Homo sapiens: one gene and its partners. The protein of the gene in region 5 purifies or fractionates together with the protein of the main gene of each other region. This does not show direct contact. Each region holds a gene or a part of one and is shown on either strand. Other genes may lie near its edges.

Region 1 (3,481 bases), on a different chromosome or scaffold from region 5:
AGGTGGATCACTTGAAGTCAGGAGTTCAGGACCAGCCTGGCCAACATGGTGAAACCCCCTCTCTACTAAAAATACAAAAATTAGCTGGGCGTGGTGGCGGGCGCCTGTAATCCCGCTACTCAGCAGGCTGAGGCTTAAGAATCACTTGAACCCAGGAGGCAGAGGTTGCAGTAAGCCAAGATTGCACCACTGCACTCCAGCCTGGGCAACAGTGCAAGACTACATCTCAAACAAAAAAAAAAGAAAAACCTGTAGTCGGCAGAAATGTCTTCTATATTCTGATGATCAGCTGGCTATCACTCTGGTTTTAGCATTGTCAGTTTTCATCTTTTTTATATGCCTTCATATGTAATTATGATGGAAAGCTGGGAGAAACTATTACTGGGGCAAGATGTATTTTTCCTGTGTAACTGAGATGAATTGTTAGTTTCATAGATTATGTATTTTTATATTTTTGGATGAAACAGTTTGAAGTTAAATTTATATCCCTAAAAAAATCAGTTGGCAACACATCGTATATATTTTAACTAATAACAAAAGTGCTTTATTCATTCAGAAGAAACTTCTTAATAAATCAAAGGTTAGTAAAGAATGTTTACTGATTTACATAAAGATTTAAGATTCTTAATTTTCCTCATTATTGTAAATAGATACATTCTCCCTCTCATGCTTCAAAATCTGAGAAATCCCGATGTAAATGAAAAAAAAATGTGTTTACCAAGTAAAAGAATAAGAACAAAAGAAATGCCGGGCAGTGCAGGCCTATATATAGGTCATGGTTTCCAGCTACGTGTCGGGCAGTGGTGCCAAGTCAGACATGGAAACAGCCCCCAAAACGTCAACCCCAAAAGGAACCACAGGGGACATGAAGTTTTTGGTTATCTGAAATTAATTTGACCCATGGGACATGCATTCTGGATAGGGCACTGCCTCAAACTGCCTCACGTTACCAACGTCAAATTGTTTTAGGTCGTAAGTGAGCTTCAACAATGAGAAGGTTGTATGGAGAACATGGAACTTGTCTCTCAGAGCACAAAGAAATCACTGGGGTAGGTGAGAAAAGGAAGAGGAGGCTAGCATGGGAGCAGGTGTGGTTCACCTGCCTTCTGCAAAAAAACTGCGTGGCCACACTGAACGACTGGTGGCAGCTGGGAGGAGGACAGCCACAAGGTGGGCCAAGGAAACTGAGCCGCAAGCAAGACCTGAAACCCACCTCGATAGGAAAGAGACTGACTCCAAAGAGATGTGAGTTGGACGTGTCAGTGGTCATGGCAGAACATTCAGCTAAGATAGAAATTAGGAACTCAGATTACCACACCAGAGAACAGAGGCCCTGAGTCCGCGAGTAGGAACACTCAGAGGTCAGGCCTTCAGTAGACTAGAGCTTGAGATGAGCCCAATGGCCTTCTTGACAAGGGTTTCAGGTTTTGTTTTGGCTTTTTGGGTTTTTTGTTTGTTTGTTTTTTGAGACAGGGTTTCGCTCTGTCACCCAGGCTGGAGTGCAGTGGCGCCATCTCAGCTTACTGCAGCCTCCATCCCCTGGGTTCAAGTGATCTTCCCACCTCAGCCTCCCGAGTAGCTGGGACTATAGGTGCACACCACCACGCCCGGCTAATTTCTGTATTTTTTGTAGAGTCAGGGTCTCAATATGTTGCCCAGGCTGGTCTCGAACTCCTGGACTCAAGTGATCCACCTGACTCGGCCTCCCAAGAAGTGCTGGGATTGCAGGCATGAGCCATCATGCCCAGCCAACAAGCATTGCTATGGACACCATGCCCAGGCTCAAGCCTGTTGTCACCATGTGGTCTGGCATGAGACCTCTCGGAAGACACAAAAGTCCACGTGGCCAGAAGGCAGAGAGAGGGGCACACGGAGGCCAGCCTCCACGTGGCCAGAAGGCAGAGAGAGGGGCACACAGAGGCCAGCCTCCACGTGGCCAGAAGGCAGAGAGAGGGGCATACGGAGGCCAGCCGTCCACAATGCCAGCAGCACTTCTCTTGACACCTGCCTGTGCTGGGTGCATAAAAGGAGCTAGCCACAGGTGGGAATTCTTGGAGCTAGGGGGAGGAGAGACAGAGGGAAGTGTTTGATGATAATGTTGGGGGACTCAATAAGGAAAACTGAGATAAACCTCCTCTAAATCCACTAGCCACTTTCCTGGGTCAGTGTCAAAATCACAAGACAAATATCATTCCCCTGCTCTGTGCAAAATGAGTGCTGGTTGGGGCAGTCACACATCTTTGAGCTATCACTTAAATACGCCCAAGCCCTGCCTTGTCCTAGGTGAAAAGACCTCACAGGACATCTTCCATGCAGTAGCTGTCAAAGGAAGAAACAGGGCATCTCGCCCAGTGATGACCACAATCATAACTATCCCAGAAACAGAGCTGAGTTTCCAAACACGTTCCGGTCAAACTACCCCAGAAACAGAGCTGAGTTTCCAAACACGTTCCAGTCAAACATGTTCTCTTGCTGCCCATGTTAAAGTGGCTTCTGAGTTTGCCATCTCTTAGAAATGGTCTAATGACCTGAACTTTTAGGATTCCTTCAAAAGGAGGTAGGTACTGTTCTGAATTGTGTTGACCTTCAGGTCACAGAGGGTGAATTTATATGCTTGAAAGTTTAGGGTAGAGAACAACAGCCCTTCAATACTAACAGACTCAGATGAAAATAAGCTACAGGGTGACAGAAAGATCAAGATAAGCACAAGCCGATGGCTGGAGGATGAAGGAGATGCTTTAGATATTACCAAAAACTCAAATGCCCATCTTATGCCAGGGGAAGATTGTATTGATATTTTCCTCCAGCTCCAAAGTACTAGACACTGCTCCCCTTTTAAGGAGAGCAGACCCTGCCATAAAAGAGAATGGTTTGGGTTTTGTTGTGTCTAATGAAAAAGAGAAAAGGGTGGTTGGCATTAAACTCCACCCAAGATCGTAGTGACCTTTCCGAGACAACAGCCCCAGTGGCTGCAGCTGCCTGGGTACCGTTTTCATCCACCTCCACAAAGGTTTTGTGGATAATTTTTGACAAGTACAAATTGGGACTTGGAGAGATTCCAGTAAGATCAGCCCTCGTTTCATCAAAGATATCCGTAATGCCCATGTCTTGTAAAATGGAATTGAGATCATAGCTGTCTTCCAGGGTGAACCGGGGGAAGGACAGGACCACCGATTCTTCTGACATGTTTTCTGAGCTGCTCCAGGCCACCATTTTTTCATAGGTGATTTTCCTTTCAAGCTACAAGAGGAAGGAAATAATATTTAGCATCAGATTATGGGACCACAAAGAATGCCCCAATTACTTCAAGGTGCCTGAGTCCCTTTCAGTGGGCAGTGACAACCTTCAAGACCTTTCCCTAAGCTAGAGAATAGTCTGATTTCATTTAAAACTTCAAGCAAATATCTTTCCTCTTTAGAAGAAGTTAGGGGACAACTCAGGTTCCAGTGTGCTCTGGTGTTTGAGAGACAAGTGTTCAAAG
Region 2 (3,520 bases), on a different chromosome or scaffold from region 5:
CCTGGGTGAGAGAGCGAGACTCCATCTCAAAAAAAAAAAAAAAAAAAAACAGGAGACCCCCCTAACTAAGACAGCCAGGAGCTAGGAGATGGGGCAGCCATGGGTGTGCACCGGGGTCTTCCTGGGACAGTAGTATCTCTTGCCTGCTGGTCCATTTCAGACAGGGCTGGGCATTTTAACTCCCAGGGCTATGAAGTCCCAAGGCATGTGATTTTGATATTGAAGATAGTCCTGGTTGGTGGGGAAATGAGAATAGCTTTCCTTAGGCCAACGTTCTGCAAAATGCTAAGCCATATTATTGGCCTTTTCCCTTGGGAACTATTTCCTGTTGGCATTTGGGGCTGTCTTTTGCCTAGAATGTACTTTCTGGGCCTGCACTCAACCGATCAAGCAGTTTGAGGGTCCAACAGGTTCCTCCTCATGAGTTTTCCCTGCGGTGCTGACTGAACGCAAAGCGCAAAGGCTCTTCCTCAAGAAACTCAGCGTGAAGGTGGGGGTTTCCACGGGGTCTCTGGGTGGGGCGTTAGTTCCCAGCACAGGCCAGACTCAGCAGCGAGCTGTGTGCAAGGAGACCTGTGGGGAGCGCTGCCTGGGGCCAGGATGGGCCTGGGGCAAGGTGAGTGAGAGAAGGGAAGTGGAGGGGGCCCCATGCCTGTAATCCCAGCACTTTGGGAGGCCGAGGCGGGAGGATCGCTTGAGCCCAAGGGTTCAAGACCAGCCTGGGCAGCACAGAGAGACACCTCTCTCTACAATCAATCAATCAATCAATCAATCAATCAATTGAAGTGGAGGGGAGGGATGGAGAAGCAGGACTGTCTGGAGGAAGTCAGAGCAAGCTCCTGAGCAGGGAAGGAATGAAGCAGAAGGCAACATGGCTCAGGGGTGCCCATGCCCAGCCCAGCACTGCCCACTCCCTGCTGTCCCTGCTGCTCATCCCCCTCCCCCTCATTCATACCCTGGCTTAATGGACTTAACCGCAGTCCCCCTATCTGCAAAGCCCAGATGGAGCACAGAAGCAGAGGGCTGTTTGCCATCCATCCCTTAGGCAGAGGCAGGTGACAGGACAGGGAGAGGGGCAGGGAGGCCAACTGGGGAGACGCAACAGGCCGTGGGCAGGCCTGTCTGAAAGAAGGTCAGAATGGAATCTACTCCAAGCGTGGCAAAGGCTTACTCATGACCCAGAGGAAACTGCACCTGGGGCTTGGTTTTTCCAAAGGAAGAACTTTTTGTCAAGTAAAAGGATTTTAAAGGAGACTAAGAGGGCCAGGCATGATGGCTCACGCCTGTAATCCCAGTGCTTTGGGAGGCTCAGGCAGGAGGATTACTTGAGACTAGGAGTTCAAGACCAGCCTAGGCAACAGCAAACTTCGTCTTTACAAAAAATAGAAAACCACTTTGCCTGGTATGGTGGTGCATCTGTAGTGCCAGCTACTCAGGAAGCTGATGCGGGAGGATCGCTTAGGAATGTGAGGCTGCAGTGAGCTATGACTGGCCACTGCACTCCAGCCTGGGGGACAGAGTGAGACCTTGTCTCAAAATAAAATAAAATAAAGTAAAATAAAATAAAATAAAAGGAGGACTAGGGGTGTTGGCCTGAGGCTCAGAGCGGGCCTGGCAGGGCCAGGGAGGGCAGTGACTATTCCTGGTCTCTGGCAGGTGGAGAAGGGCAGGGCTGCGTGGGTCCGTGTCCTGGGTCCCAGCCAGGCTGAGCCAATAGGAGCAGGCTTAAGGAAGGGACACTCAGAACACGGTCTCAGCATTTGGGGCAGGTTAATGGGGGCACTGACAGCGGGATTTGGGAAAAGCACTGCTCTGCCTCCAGCCGGTCCATCTGGGGGCTGGTGGGCAGCTGCTGCCTCCCTAGGAAGAAGCACTGGCAACCGCCCGTGACCACCAAGGCTGAGTGTCCTGGTGGGTGCCCACCCTGTTCATGCAAGAACCCGGAATGTGCCTGGGCCCAGACTTTGTCAGGGCTAAAGTAAACTGTTCTTGAAAACAACAATAACATCAACATTGCAGCAGCTGCTCCTTGGCCATTTCCATCCATGCCAACCTCAAGTGCCTCCGCCCTGCAGGTAACAGCATGACAGCTTCCCAAAGGCACGTCCAATCAGTGCAAAAATAAAGGGCCTCTCAGTGGTCATTTTGGTAAAGCAAGGATGTTACCGCTACGTTACCCTGAATGTACTGTGGAGCCTTTCAGGAAGTCCAGGCCTAAGAACTTGAAATGTTTTAACTCAATGGCATTCAGTCAAATTGGCAAAACTTTTCAGACGCCCCCTAAGACCTCCACCCTGGCAGCAGAAATCTCTGGATAAATTACTAAGCTGCTCACCTTTGGAGAGCATATTAATATTTACAGCTTTAGTAAAGCACATGTAAAATAACTGATGATCAACGCTGGCAAAACCTCTGAAACTGCTCATCACCAAGAGACCCAGGAGTTGCAAATAACCCAGCCAGTGCTGACTCGTCACTAGCTACCGCTCTGCACCTGGGCCTGGAAGCGTCTGAATCCAATTGTGAGCAGATGCAAGTTCTCAGATGTTTCTCAGACAGGAATCCAACCCGTTCCTCTGTTGTTTTTCCTACTCAAATGGAAATTAGAGTCTTATCTGAACTGCTCATAATCCTTTTAATTTCCTTTCAAAAATTAAAAAAAATACTTTGTACATTTCTGATTCAAAGTATATATATTTTTTCTGGCATCTAAAAAATACTTTTATCTCCCATCAGCCTCTGGTTAACTCAGCTGGAAGTTTCAAAGGCGTTTGGATCCCAGAGTTGTTTGTGCTCTTAGTTGCACATTTCTGCCTCCGTCCAGCCTTCCAGCAGGCGGCTGGCCTTCTCTGCACCAGAATCTGAGCTATCAGAATCAGGGTCACAGATCAACATCAGCCCGGCATTCCTCCTCCGAAATTTCACATTAAAGCCGGCTTTCACCAGTCAGAAATCTTGCCCCAGGAGCTCCCAGACGGGACAACAGGCAGTGCTCTGAGAAGGGGACGCAGAGGACCAGCCCAGCATGGGTCTGGCTGTGGGCTGGGAATCCCGTGAGCCTCTGTGACACGGGGCTGTTGCTGAGACCAGAGGGCTTCCCAGGAGCAGACGTGCGTCTGCCACTCCTGCTGCTGTTTTGCGTAGGTTCTAGACATCACAATCCCAGAACTGACCCAGTGTGCTGCCCACATTCTTACATGAAGAGGAGACGCAGGACTCCGGGGTGCTGGGCTTGCCCTCCCTGTAGACAGCCTCGTGAGCGGCTGGCAGGGCCTGCGGGTGGCCGTTTCTGGCGTGCTGGGCTGTCTGGGGAGGTGTGTGTTGGTCTTCCACCCTGGAGAAAAACATGAAAAACGGCAGTGAGTACAGCCAGCCAGGAGATTCGGACTGCCGACTGCCGACTGCAGCATCACAAATACAGGAGGGGGCGGTGCCTCAAAGTCTTGTTAAACCATCATTAGCATATCAGACCTTCTAAAGGGTCTTGGCAGGAGCCAGGAGGCTGACCCTGTGAGGCAGT
Region 3 (3,520 bases), on a different chromosome or scaffold from region 5:
GCCAGTTTTCCCCATGATCGTACTCCCTTTATTTTGTACTATCATTCTTTTTACAGCTATGACCATGAGTTAGTGTTTGGTGTCTCCTTGAAGAACATGAATAAAGCGGAGAGGCTGACTTTTGGTGAGTCACTTATGACCCACGCCATGACCTTCACTGCTGTCTCAGAGAAGGTATGACCCTCAGCATGCCTGCTGGAGTGTTTGCACAGATGGATCTACATTCTCCTGTAGACTGTTTACCCAACAAAGCTTCATTCATAGTGTATATGATTTCTGTTAAAAGTTAGTTTCCAAGTAAGACATCGTACCTGCGTCACTTGGGGCTTGGCTGCGTGCTTAGAGGTAATATAAAAATAGGAACTTTCTATGAGGAGAATTTGGGTCAGCAGGGAGCGACCAAGTAACTGTTTCTGTAACTTTGGAAGGTCATGGTTTAAAGAGAAGTCAGCAAGGGAACTTGAGAGAAGATAACTTCTACTTTATAAGGAATCAAAATGTGCCCTGAAAGTGTTCATATCTTGATGACCTATGTTCAGATTTCCCTTCATTTGTCATTCAGATTCTTTTGCAGTAAAATGTCAATAACAGTAATTTGTGGACTCCATACCCATTTCTAGTTATATGCAGAGCTTCAGGAAATTGGATGTAAAGTATTTTGAATTTCCTGTGAAATAGTGTGTATAGTAATACCACTTTTTATAGGTTATAGAGTTGGAAACAACTGAAATTTTATCTTTCACAAATAAACTCCTCACTTCCAGTCAGTAAAAATAGATATTTTCACCTCTGTGCTCAGGATCATCAGGAAGGAAGAACTTGAACTACTTTAATTCTTTACCACCACAAGCAAAAATATTCTTTCTAGCCTAATTCCTGGAAAGTCACAGAATAACTACCTTATATAAATTGTTCTAGAAAATCATTTTTTTTTTTTTTTTTTGAGATGGAGTCTCACTCTGTCATCCAGGCAGGAGTGCTGTAGTGTGATCTCAGCTCACTGCAACCTCCACCTCTGGGGCTCAAAAGATTCTCCTGCCTCAGCCTTGCGAGTAGCTGGGATTACAAGTGCCCGCCAACACACCCAGCTGATTTTTTTGTATTTTTAGTAGAAGTGGGGTTTTGCCATGTTGGCCAGGCTGGTCTCGAACTCCTGACCTCAGGTGATCTGCCCGCCTCAGCTTCCCAAAGTGCTGGGATTACAGGCATGAGCCACCGCACCCAGCTAGAAAATGGTTTGATAGAGAATTGTTTTTGCTATCCTATCCACTAGATTTATGATCTTTAAAATGTTTAGAAATATCTTAGCATATCATTATGCCACATTTTCCTAACTAGCCTATCTAAAAGTCCTGATTTGCTTTTTATACTCTATGCAGAATTGTGAGTGGGATGGGGTTTTCTTTCTGTACCTTTTTCTCACCTCTTCCAACTACTTCACTTGAAGGGTGCCCTTTCAACCCCACAGCATCTAAGATCCCTGTGCTCTCTCTGTATTCAAAACTTGGTCTTAAAGGTTTAATTACATTCCTGCAAATTATAAGGCTAGTGCTTTAAGTAGTAGAACTCTGAGGTATTCTCAGTTTTATATGAGATCAAACACAGTATGGTGTAAAGGTGCCCTGAACTTAAGAGGCAGTCTTAATGCTGATACTCCTGATCCTCATGTAGTTTTCATAAATAAATGTAAAGGTTGAGGTCTTGTAAACCAGCGAGCTGTTTTCCTCATTATTCCATTCGTCAGTAATCTCAGCTCTGTAGTTAGCGAGACTCCCACACCAAGAAACAGGTTTTTAGGGTTACCCAGGAGAATGTGTGGAGTATAATTTGCATTACTTATGTAGATCAAGAAAAGTCATTTTAAAACAGCAAAAGGTGATTTAAGTGTTATCACCCCAATTTAACAAAATTCTCACATTTGAATTATAAACAAAACATAAAGTTAGGTTATAAAAGGAATTTTAGACCGGGTGCAGTGACTCACACCTGAAATCCCAGCACTTTGGGAGGCTGAGGCGGGAGGATCACCTGAGGTCAGGAGTTCAGGACTAGCCTGACCGACATGGCGAGACCCTGTCTCCACTAAAAATACAAAAATTAGCTGGGCATGGTGGCGTGCACCTGTAATTCCAGCAGCTACTCTGGAGGCTGAGGCAGGAGAATCCTTTGAACCCGGGAAGCGGAGGTTGCAGTGAGACAAGATTGCACCACTGCACTCCAGCCTGGGTGACAGAGCAAGACTCTGTCTCAAAAAAAAAAAAAAACAATAAATAAATAAATAAAATACATGAAAAGGTTTTTCAAATAAGGGTGCTTTATAACTAAACTAAAGTTCTTTAAATAAATTTTTAAACTATATAGAGTTCTGTTTTGTGTTTTTTTGTTGTTGTTTTTTTGTTTTTTTTGAGACTGAGTCTTGCTCTGTCGCCCAGGCTGGAGTGCAGTGGCACAATCTCAGCTCACTGCAACCTCCACCTCCTGGGTTCAAGCTATTCTCCTGCCTCAGCCTCCTGAGTGCAGGCGTGCACCATCGGCCTGGCTAATTTTTTTTTTTTTTTTTTTGTATTTTTAGTAGAGATAGGGTTTCGCCATGTTGGCCAGGCTGGTCTTGAACTCCTGACCTCAAGCAATCCACCTGCTTCGGCCTCCCAAAGTGCTGGGATTACAGGCATGAGCCACTGTGCCCAGCCGAGAATTTGTTTTGTTTGTTTGTTTGTTTTTAAAAAAACAAACAAACAAAAACTTGTAATTTCCAAGAAAAATTCAGCTTTTTATCATTTCTATCTCTGTTATAGAATACTCCTATTTTTCAGGAATAAAAATAATGAATACCACTGTCATTTTCTTGGGAACTTCCATTCTTTGATTAGCATGGGTTGTTTCCTTAGGAAAATGGAGCTACCTTACATGCTAATGGTATAAAGCAGAATTTATATTATTATACCTGGAATTTTATATTGAACATTTTCTCTTCATTCCACTAGAGTTTTTGATCCCAAAAACGAGTTTGAACTACACTTGAGTAATAGTACAGAGGTAAATGCATACTAGTGGTTATATTTCCACAATTTTCTTTCTTTTGTTGCTGATATCATGGAATCCCTATAAGGGAGTTCCAGGTATTAATCATTTTGTAATTGTAGATGACCCAGAGAACAATTTGATCTAGGTCACTCCAGGAATTCATTGGCCAAGGGGAAAACATAGGAAACATTTTCAGACTTAGAGTAACAAGTAACTATATCACTTTAGGTGACATCGATTCTAACAGTGATATTTAAAAGGAAAGTAAAGTTGGACTACAGTGGGAGGAATAGAAAACCAAAACAGACATATAATATGCCAGCTGCAGAATGTATAGTATATAACGATATGGTTTTAAAGGATTTGGGGGCAAAGAGTAAGGATTAGTACAGGTAAGGGTGTGTGAAACTTGTGAGTTTGTTGGCGCTATTTGTGAGACAGAAAATTACTGAGATCCAAGAAAACTGCCAAGAGTGGAGTGTTTGGGTTAGCAGAG
Region 4 (3,520 bases), on a different chromosome or scaffold from region 5:
TGAGAACAAATGGGATGGGGGTGTTCGAGAGAGGGAGGAAGCTCAGGGGATGGCAGTTTTAAACTGTGGGATTGGGAACAAGACAGTAATAGAATTTAGCAGATTAGAACACATTGAGTTTGAGATGCCAGATAATGCCTGGGTGAAGATGATCAGCAATTGGAAACATGGATCAAAACTTGAGCAAAAGTTCAAGCTGGATATGTAGATTTGAGGTAGATCTGCTCAGGCAGGATAGTTGAAATCGTGAGAATTTGAAATTTCCAAAGTAGAGGATACAGTCAAGAATCAGCCTGCAATTGAGGATAAAACTAGAAGAGTTCCTACATTTATAGAACTAGGAACAACGACAACAAACAAACAAAAAAAAAAAAAAGGAAGGAGAGGGCCGGGCGCTGTGGCTCACGCCTGTAATCCCAGCACTTTGGGAGGCCGAGGCGGGTGGATCACGAGGTCAGGAGACTGAGAACATCCTGGCCAACATGGTGAAACCCCGTCTCCACTAAAAATACAAAAATTAGCTGGGCGTCGTGGTGCGTGCCTGTAGTCCCAGCTACTTGGGAGGCTGAGGCAGGAGAATCAATGGAACCCAGGAGGCGGAGGTTGCAGTGAGCCGAGATTGCACCACTGCACTCCTGGGGACAGAGCAAGACTTTGTCTCAAAAAAAGAAAAAAAAAAAAAAAAAAAAAAGGAAGGAGAGAAGGAGTGGCGAAAGAGAGAAGGAATGGCGAAAGAAACAATAGGAAAATATAATGCATTATAATGGAGGTCAGAGGAAAAGGAAAACGGAAAGACAGATGGGGTTGAAAGAGATGAGGTAAAAAAGTTGAGCAGAGTGAATTCTGAGGAAATCCTGAGGTTCTGAGGGACCTTCAAGAGAATATTTTTAGCTGGATGGAACATGCACTTGCTTGACAGCAAGGGATTAGGAAATGAGAGGAGGAGAGGAGGACATAAAGATGGTCACTTTTTCAAGACATTGGTGATAAAAGGGAACAGAGGGACAAGATAGTAGCATTTTTTTTTGAGAGAGGGTAACCTAAGGATTTTTGAAAGTTAAGATAGAAGCTAGGAGGAGATTTTGATTTAAAAGAAGAGATGTTCAGCAGGAAGATTCTCATAGAAGTGTTGTGATAGGGAGAGCAGGAGAGAATGGGCAGAAAAAGAAAGGACCTCAAAGACAAAGGCAAGGAAAGATAGAGATTAAAATCGATCAATTAGGAAAGGGAAATTGGAAGACATTGTACTAAATGACCTAGACTTTGTCCCTGGAGTAAGGGTGAGGTGGATGGAGATTAAAATCAATAAACTGGGGAAGGGAAATTGGAGGACACTCTCCTAAATGACCTAGACCTTGTCCCTGGAGTAAGGGTGAGGTTATTTTCTGACAATTAGGGGAGAAGTTTGGATTCCCAAATGAGTTTGGAGTCTGTGCTATGGAGGCTGTGATGGAGATTTACCTAGAGATGAACACAGAGGTTATCAGGCTGACTGAGTATATCTCAGCTGTTTTGCCCAGTGGATAGGGACTTTGGGGTAAGTCATTAAATCAATCTGTGCTCAGTTTCCTCAGCTGTATATGAGACTAAAAGTCCCCTCTAGTCCTAAAATTCTATGAAAACAGTAAATAATTCACCTGAAATACATCCTCAATGAGTTTCCCCTTCATTTCTGTTTTAGGAACCAATCCATTTATGTACTTTTTAAAAGCTACAGGAGACAAAATCACAGGCTAATTTTAATAAATCCCCAATTACAGTAATTTTTAATGTTTTCCTTTTTAATATTGAAGTTCATGCTTCCTTGCACATAATAAAAATGGGTTTGAGAGTAACAAGCTATTTTTATTTAAAAAATCTCTTGCATTTAATAATTGTGAGATGGTCTTCCAAGTCACTTTTTGCTAAGCGTTGAATTCTAACATAATTGTTACGTTTTTGTTAAGCATTCAATTCTAATGTAATTGTTAACTTTTATATACATCGCAAGGATGCACTTGAAACAAAGCTAAAATATCACAATTTGCTTTATTTAAAAACCTCCTCTTATCTTTCCTTTGTACTGCTCTGACAAAGGGTATCAGTCTGAGGTTGACAGCACCTTAATGGGTTGAATTCTCTAATTTATTCTTTTCGTTTGTGTATTTTACAAGTACATACTGAATGTGTATTATGTGGATCCAACACTAGATTAAGACTTTTAAAGGCCTGAAAATATTATAGTAAGTCTCAGGTGAAATGTAAAATGAATTTAATACTACACCATTAAAATGTTGGGGAAATCCAGTATTATTATTTCTATGTTTAATAGCGTGATAATTTTTTGGAGTGTGTGGGGGAAGAGCTGTATAAACTATCCAGAAACTTCCTTGTGGTACCTCTGCTGTGTGTGATTAGACATCTTTTGAGCAATCTTGCACTGGTGCAAGGCACCATAAGGGATACAAAGGCAAATCAGACACAGAACCTGCCTTCAAATAACTTACAGTCTTGCAGTTTTGAGAGCAACAGGCAACCATTAATTTGTAGAGATATGATTTCTCATTAGACGAGTATGAAAAACTGTGGCCTATTCTCATAGACCAATTAAGAGCATGGATCAGCAGCCAATGGCATTTAAAAAAATTTGATCTGTCTAAGTCTATTGAAGGAATTTGCATATCAAGCATAATCAGCAAGGGTGGCATGACCCAGCACTGGGCAAGGGTGTTCCCTGAGATGAGGGAGCATTATAAATCTAATTGCGGTGCCTGGCACAGCAGGCTTCCTGCTGATATGTTAGGCAATGTCTATTAGGACACAGGGATACTCAGCAACCAGGTCTTTGATGAATGTGTTGTGGAGAAAGAGTTACCAGAAATTAAGTGCTCTGGGTATAGATAAGATAATTTTCTAGATTGATGAGATTTGTTAAATAAGTGAATCTTATTCTAGGGTCAGCCTTTCAGATTTAAGACAGCATTCTTCAGTGCTTTAGTTTCTACTCTTTTCCTAAAACAGGGATGACAAAATGTTTTTACTTTGTGGCAACTCAAACCAATTGAGCGATGATAAATGTGTACTCCTTGTTTCTGTAAAGGTGATAGAAGATGCTAATCCTAAATCTACAGCGAAATAATAAAGCTTTTATGAACACCATATAACTGTTAATGATGACACTTGAATGCAATTTGTAAGTTTCACTGAATACGTGAACAGAAATATTCCTTCCATTTTCTACAAAATATTTTACTGAAACACTGATCTCTATACTACATATCACTATAATACACGCTCAAGAAAGCACAAAGAGCTCTCTCTTTTGCTTGTCTTCTGTTTGGTCTGTACTAATTTGTTAGTTCTTCTCTTGCTTTAGGCATCTGTGAACACAATTTTGGGGACTTAAGATGTCTTCAAGTAAGTTTAGGAACTATGTAATGAAATGTGTATTATTTTCTGTGTATTTTAGCCTGAGTGATGAAAGTACTCTTAAAAACTCCTGCTCATATTTTACAGAATTTCAGTTCGGTTCAAACTGTGG
Region 5 (3,308 bases):
CATTTTCATCTACTTGCTTAAATTACAAAGATACAAATATTTTCCTTCCAGGTCAGGAGGACACTTCTTTTTAATTCTTTTCCCTTTTTCAGGATATATCAGCACAACTTCTCTGCTCCAACTAGTCTACATTGCAAAGCATCTCCTAGTGTCTTTGGAAGAAGGATCTATGGTCAGTAATTCCTGTTTCGTGATCTGCCTTTGACATGGCTTAATCACCACCTAAGTTGATAATTCCATATTAATAATAGTGATATTCATGATTGAGCAGAGCATGTTTTTTTTTTTCCTGCATGTGATTGTGGGACAGTGATTATGTTGGAGAAAAATATAGGCCTTGATTAAATTTTGTCTTTCATTATTAATTACTTGTTATTTTGAATGTAATGTATCTGCTTTATGGTCATATAGCTTTCCAATGATATAGAAGACATCTAATTCTGGCCATGGGGAAGTATGTAATTTGTGTTTATGACAAATAAGAATACAAGAGACAAACAGTATTATATGATGAATAGTTTATTTTTAATTTAGATGCAGCTTACTATAATATTAATTATGTCCAAGATGATTTTTTGAATACAGAATACTAGAATTCCAATAGAAGGATAATAGAGAAAGATGTGCTAGCCCTGATGTTGATATAGCCACTTTGGTATACAGAACTGTTTTATATTTTTGGCTCCTTCGATATTTCTGAAAAAGATTAATTTAGAAATTTGGGGAGTGTCTAAAACTTAAACTTTCAAAAACATAAAACATTACTTGACCCAGAATCTCCTAAAATACTCCAGCTAGTTTTCTAAAGTTAGCTCTCCATGATATTGATTTCTTCCATTTAATATTTCTGAAATATAGCGTTTAAAGATCATTACACAATAAAAATAAGCTACCACCAAACTAATGAAATACTATAGCATATTTTAAACAGATTGACAGGAAAAGATAACTTCCCTGAAAGTATTATGAAGTTTCTTGATTGAAAGTGAACTTGCTTCATTCTTCTATTCTTGGATTAATTCCTTTGCCATTAATTTCTTACTCATAGTAATAGTATCTCTGTGACTGACTAAATCCCAGTTGTTTCGATATATCACTAGAATGGCCACATAAACCTGGGTCCTTATTAATATACGTTGCATAATACCTTGGATGATCTTTACCAAACGCACTTGCTTTACAGATATCAGATCTTTCCTTGAAAACAACAGGATTGGAATTGTAACTAACACTTCCGTGCTGAGAGTGTCTAAACCCGGATTCACCATAATCATAATCTGCACTACCATAGCTGCCATGTCTCCAAACTAAACCTGATTGACCTTTTTGCCTTTCAGTGCCCTCAGATTGATAATGATAAGAACTAGAACTGTGAGGACTGCCACGTGACTGTATTCCTGAGTGATACGCAGAATCTTGTGAAAGACTACTAAAGTGACCATGTTCCTTAGCGGTACTAGAGTCTGACTGTACAGGTGAAGACTGTACATGACTGGCTGTATCGCGGTGAGAGGATCCGGGGTGTCTGGAGCCATCTCTTGACTGCTCCCGAGAAGATCCATGATGGTTTCTGGAAGCAGACTCAGATCGCCTCTCAGAGTCCTCTGGGTATGCCTCACTGTCACTGTCCTGGCTAACACTGGATCCCTGGCGCCTGCTTCTCCTGGACCCCGCTGATTCACCCTGGCCGGACTGTGAGTGTCTAGAGCTGTCAGCCTGAGTGGAAGCTTCATGGTGACGCGACCCTGAGTGCCTGGAGCCGTCTCCTGACTGTTCCTCATTACGTGTTTCTCTGCTTGCACTTCTGGATCCTGACTGCCCATGGGAGGCATCAGACCTTCCCTGGGATGTGGTGTGGCTGTGATGGGACCCTGAGTGTCCAGACCTATCTACCGATTGCTCGTGGTAGGATCCCTGTCTTCCTCCTCTCCTTGACCCCGGGTGTCCACGAATGGTGTCCTGACCCTCTTGGGACGCTGAGTGCCTGGAGCTGTCTCGTGCCTGCTCGTGGCGGGATCCTTGTCTTCCTCCAGTACTGGGCCCAGCCCGTCCATGGGCAGACTCAGACTGTTCATGAGTGCTCACCTGGTAGAGGAAAGACCCTGAACGTCCAGACCTTCCTGCTGACCGGCCACGTGTGGACTCTTGGTGGCTCTGCTGATGGGGCCCAGCCTGTCCGTGGGCTGACACTGACTGTGTGTCTGAGTCTTCTGAATGTCCCTCACTGTCACTGGCCTGACTACCACTGGACCCTCGGTGTCCACTGTCTCTGACTGCAGATGAAGCTTGTCCGTGCCCAATGCCTGAGTGTCTGGAGCTGTCTGCTGACTGCTGGTGGTGGGATCCATGTCTCTCTCCTGCACTTGATCTTGCCTGTTCATGGGATGATGCAGCCTGTCCACCAGAGGAATTCTCTGCATGATGAGTGCCTGATTGTCTGGAGCTCTCTGCAGAGTGCCCGTGACCGGCTCTGTCTTCGTGATGGGACGTGGGGTGTCTGGAGCCATCTCTTGACTGCTCCTGAGCAGATCCACGATGGTTTCTGGAAGCAGACCCAGACCACCTCTCAGAGTCTTCTGAGTGTCCCTGACTGTCACTGTCCTGGCTAACACTGGATCCCTGGTTCCTGCTTGTCCTGGGCCCCGCTGATTGTCCCTGGCCGGACTGTGAGTGTCTAGAGCTGTCCGCCTGAGTGGAAGCTTCATGGTGATGCGACCATGAGTGCCTGGAGCCATCTCCTGATTGTTCGTCATTACGAGTTTGTCTGCTGGCACTTCTGGATCCTGACTGCCCACGGGAGGCATCAGACCTTCCCTGGGATGTGGTGTGGCTGTGATGGGACCCTGAGTGTCCAGACCTATCTACCGATTGCTCGTAGTGGGATCCCTGCCTTCCTCTTCTGCTTGACCCCGGGTGTCCACGAATGGTGTCCTGACCCTCTTGGGACGCTGAGTGCCTGGAGCTGTCTCGTGCCTGCTCGTGGTGGGATCCTTGTCTTCGTCCAGTGCTGGTCCTGGTCCGCCCATGGGCAGACTCAGACTGTTCATGAGTGCTCACCTGGTAGAGGAAAGACCCTGAACGTCCAGACCTTCCCCCTGACCGGTCACGTGCGGACTCTTGGTGGCTCTGCTGATGGGGCCCAGCCTGTCCATGGCCTGACACTGACTGTGTGTCTGACTCTTCTGAATGTCCCTCACTATCACTGGCCTGACTACCACTGGACCCCCAGTGTCTACTGTCTCTGACTGCAGATGAAGCTTGTCCACGCGGAATGCCTGAGTGTCTGGAGCTGTCTGCTGACTGCTGGT

What was found.
Region 1: the proteins of FLG (region 5) and SERPINB12 fractionate together in Homo sapiens (co-fractionation; one large-scale study listed by BioGRID). This does not show direct contact.
Region 2: the proteins of FLG (region 5) and ARMC9 purify together in Homo sapiens (co-immunoprecipitation; one large-scale study listed by IntAct). This does not show direct contact.
Region 3: the proteins of FLG (region 5) and BLMH purify together in Homo sapiens (affinity purification with mass spectrometry, with the first as the bait; one large-scale study listed by BioGRID). This does not show direct contact.
Region 4: the proteins of FLG (region 5) and DSG1 purify together in Homo sapiens (affinity purification with mass spectrometry, with the first as the bait; one large-scale study listed by BioGRID). This does not show direct contact.

The regions. Positions count from the first base shown.
Region 1 is NC_000018.10:63,566,366-63,569,846, reverse strand, and holds the end of SERPINB12 (serpin B12), read right to left. Parts: intron 3,241-3,481; coding exon 2,836-3,240; 3' UTR 518-2,835; downstream 1-517. UniProt on the Homo sapiens protein: Inhibits trypsin and plasmin, but not thrombin, coagulation factor Xa, or urokinase-type plasminogen activator. May play a role in cell differentiation.
Region 2 is NC_000002.12:231,355,612-231,359,131, reverse strand, and holds part of ARMC9 (lisH domain-containing protein ARMC9), read right to left. Parts: intron 3,335-3,520; coding exon 3,198-3,334; intron 1-3,197. UniProt on the Homo sapiens protein: Involved in ciliogenesis. It is required for appropriate acetylation and polyglutamylation of ciliary microtubules, and regulation of cilium length. Acts as a positive regulator of hedgehog (Hh)signaling.
Region 3 is NC_000017.11:30,267,925-30,271,444, reverse strand, and holds part of BLMH (bleomycin hydrolase), read left to right. Parts: intron 1-56; coding exon 57-174; intron 175-3,520. UniProt on the Homo sapiens protein: The normal physiological role of BLM hydrolase is unknown, but it catalyzes the inactivation of the antitumor drug BLM (a glycopeptide) by hydrolyzing the carboxamide bond of its B-aminoalaninamide moiety thus protecting normal and malignant cells from BLM toxicity.
Region 4 is NC_000018.10:31,321,148-31,324,667, reverse strand, and holds part of DSG1 (desmoglein-1 preproprotein), read right to left. Parts: intron 1-3,520. UniProt on the Homo sapiens protein: Component of intercellular desmosome junctions. Involved in the interaction of plaque proteins and intermediate filaments mediating cell-cell adhesion.
Region 5 is NC_000001.11:152,301,662-152,304,969, forward strand, and holds the end of FLG (filaggrin), read right to left. Parts: coding exon 1,039-3,308; 3' UTR 504-1,038; downstream 1-503.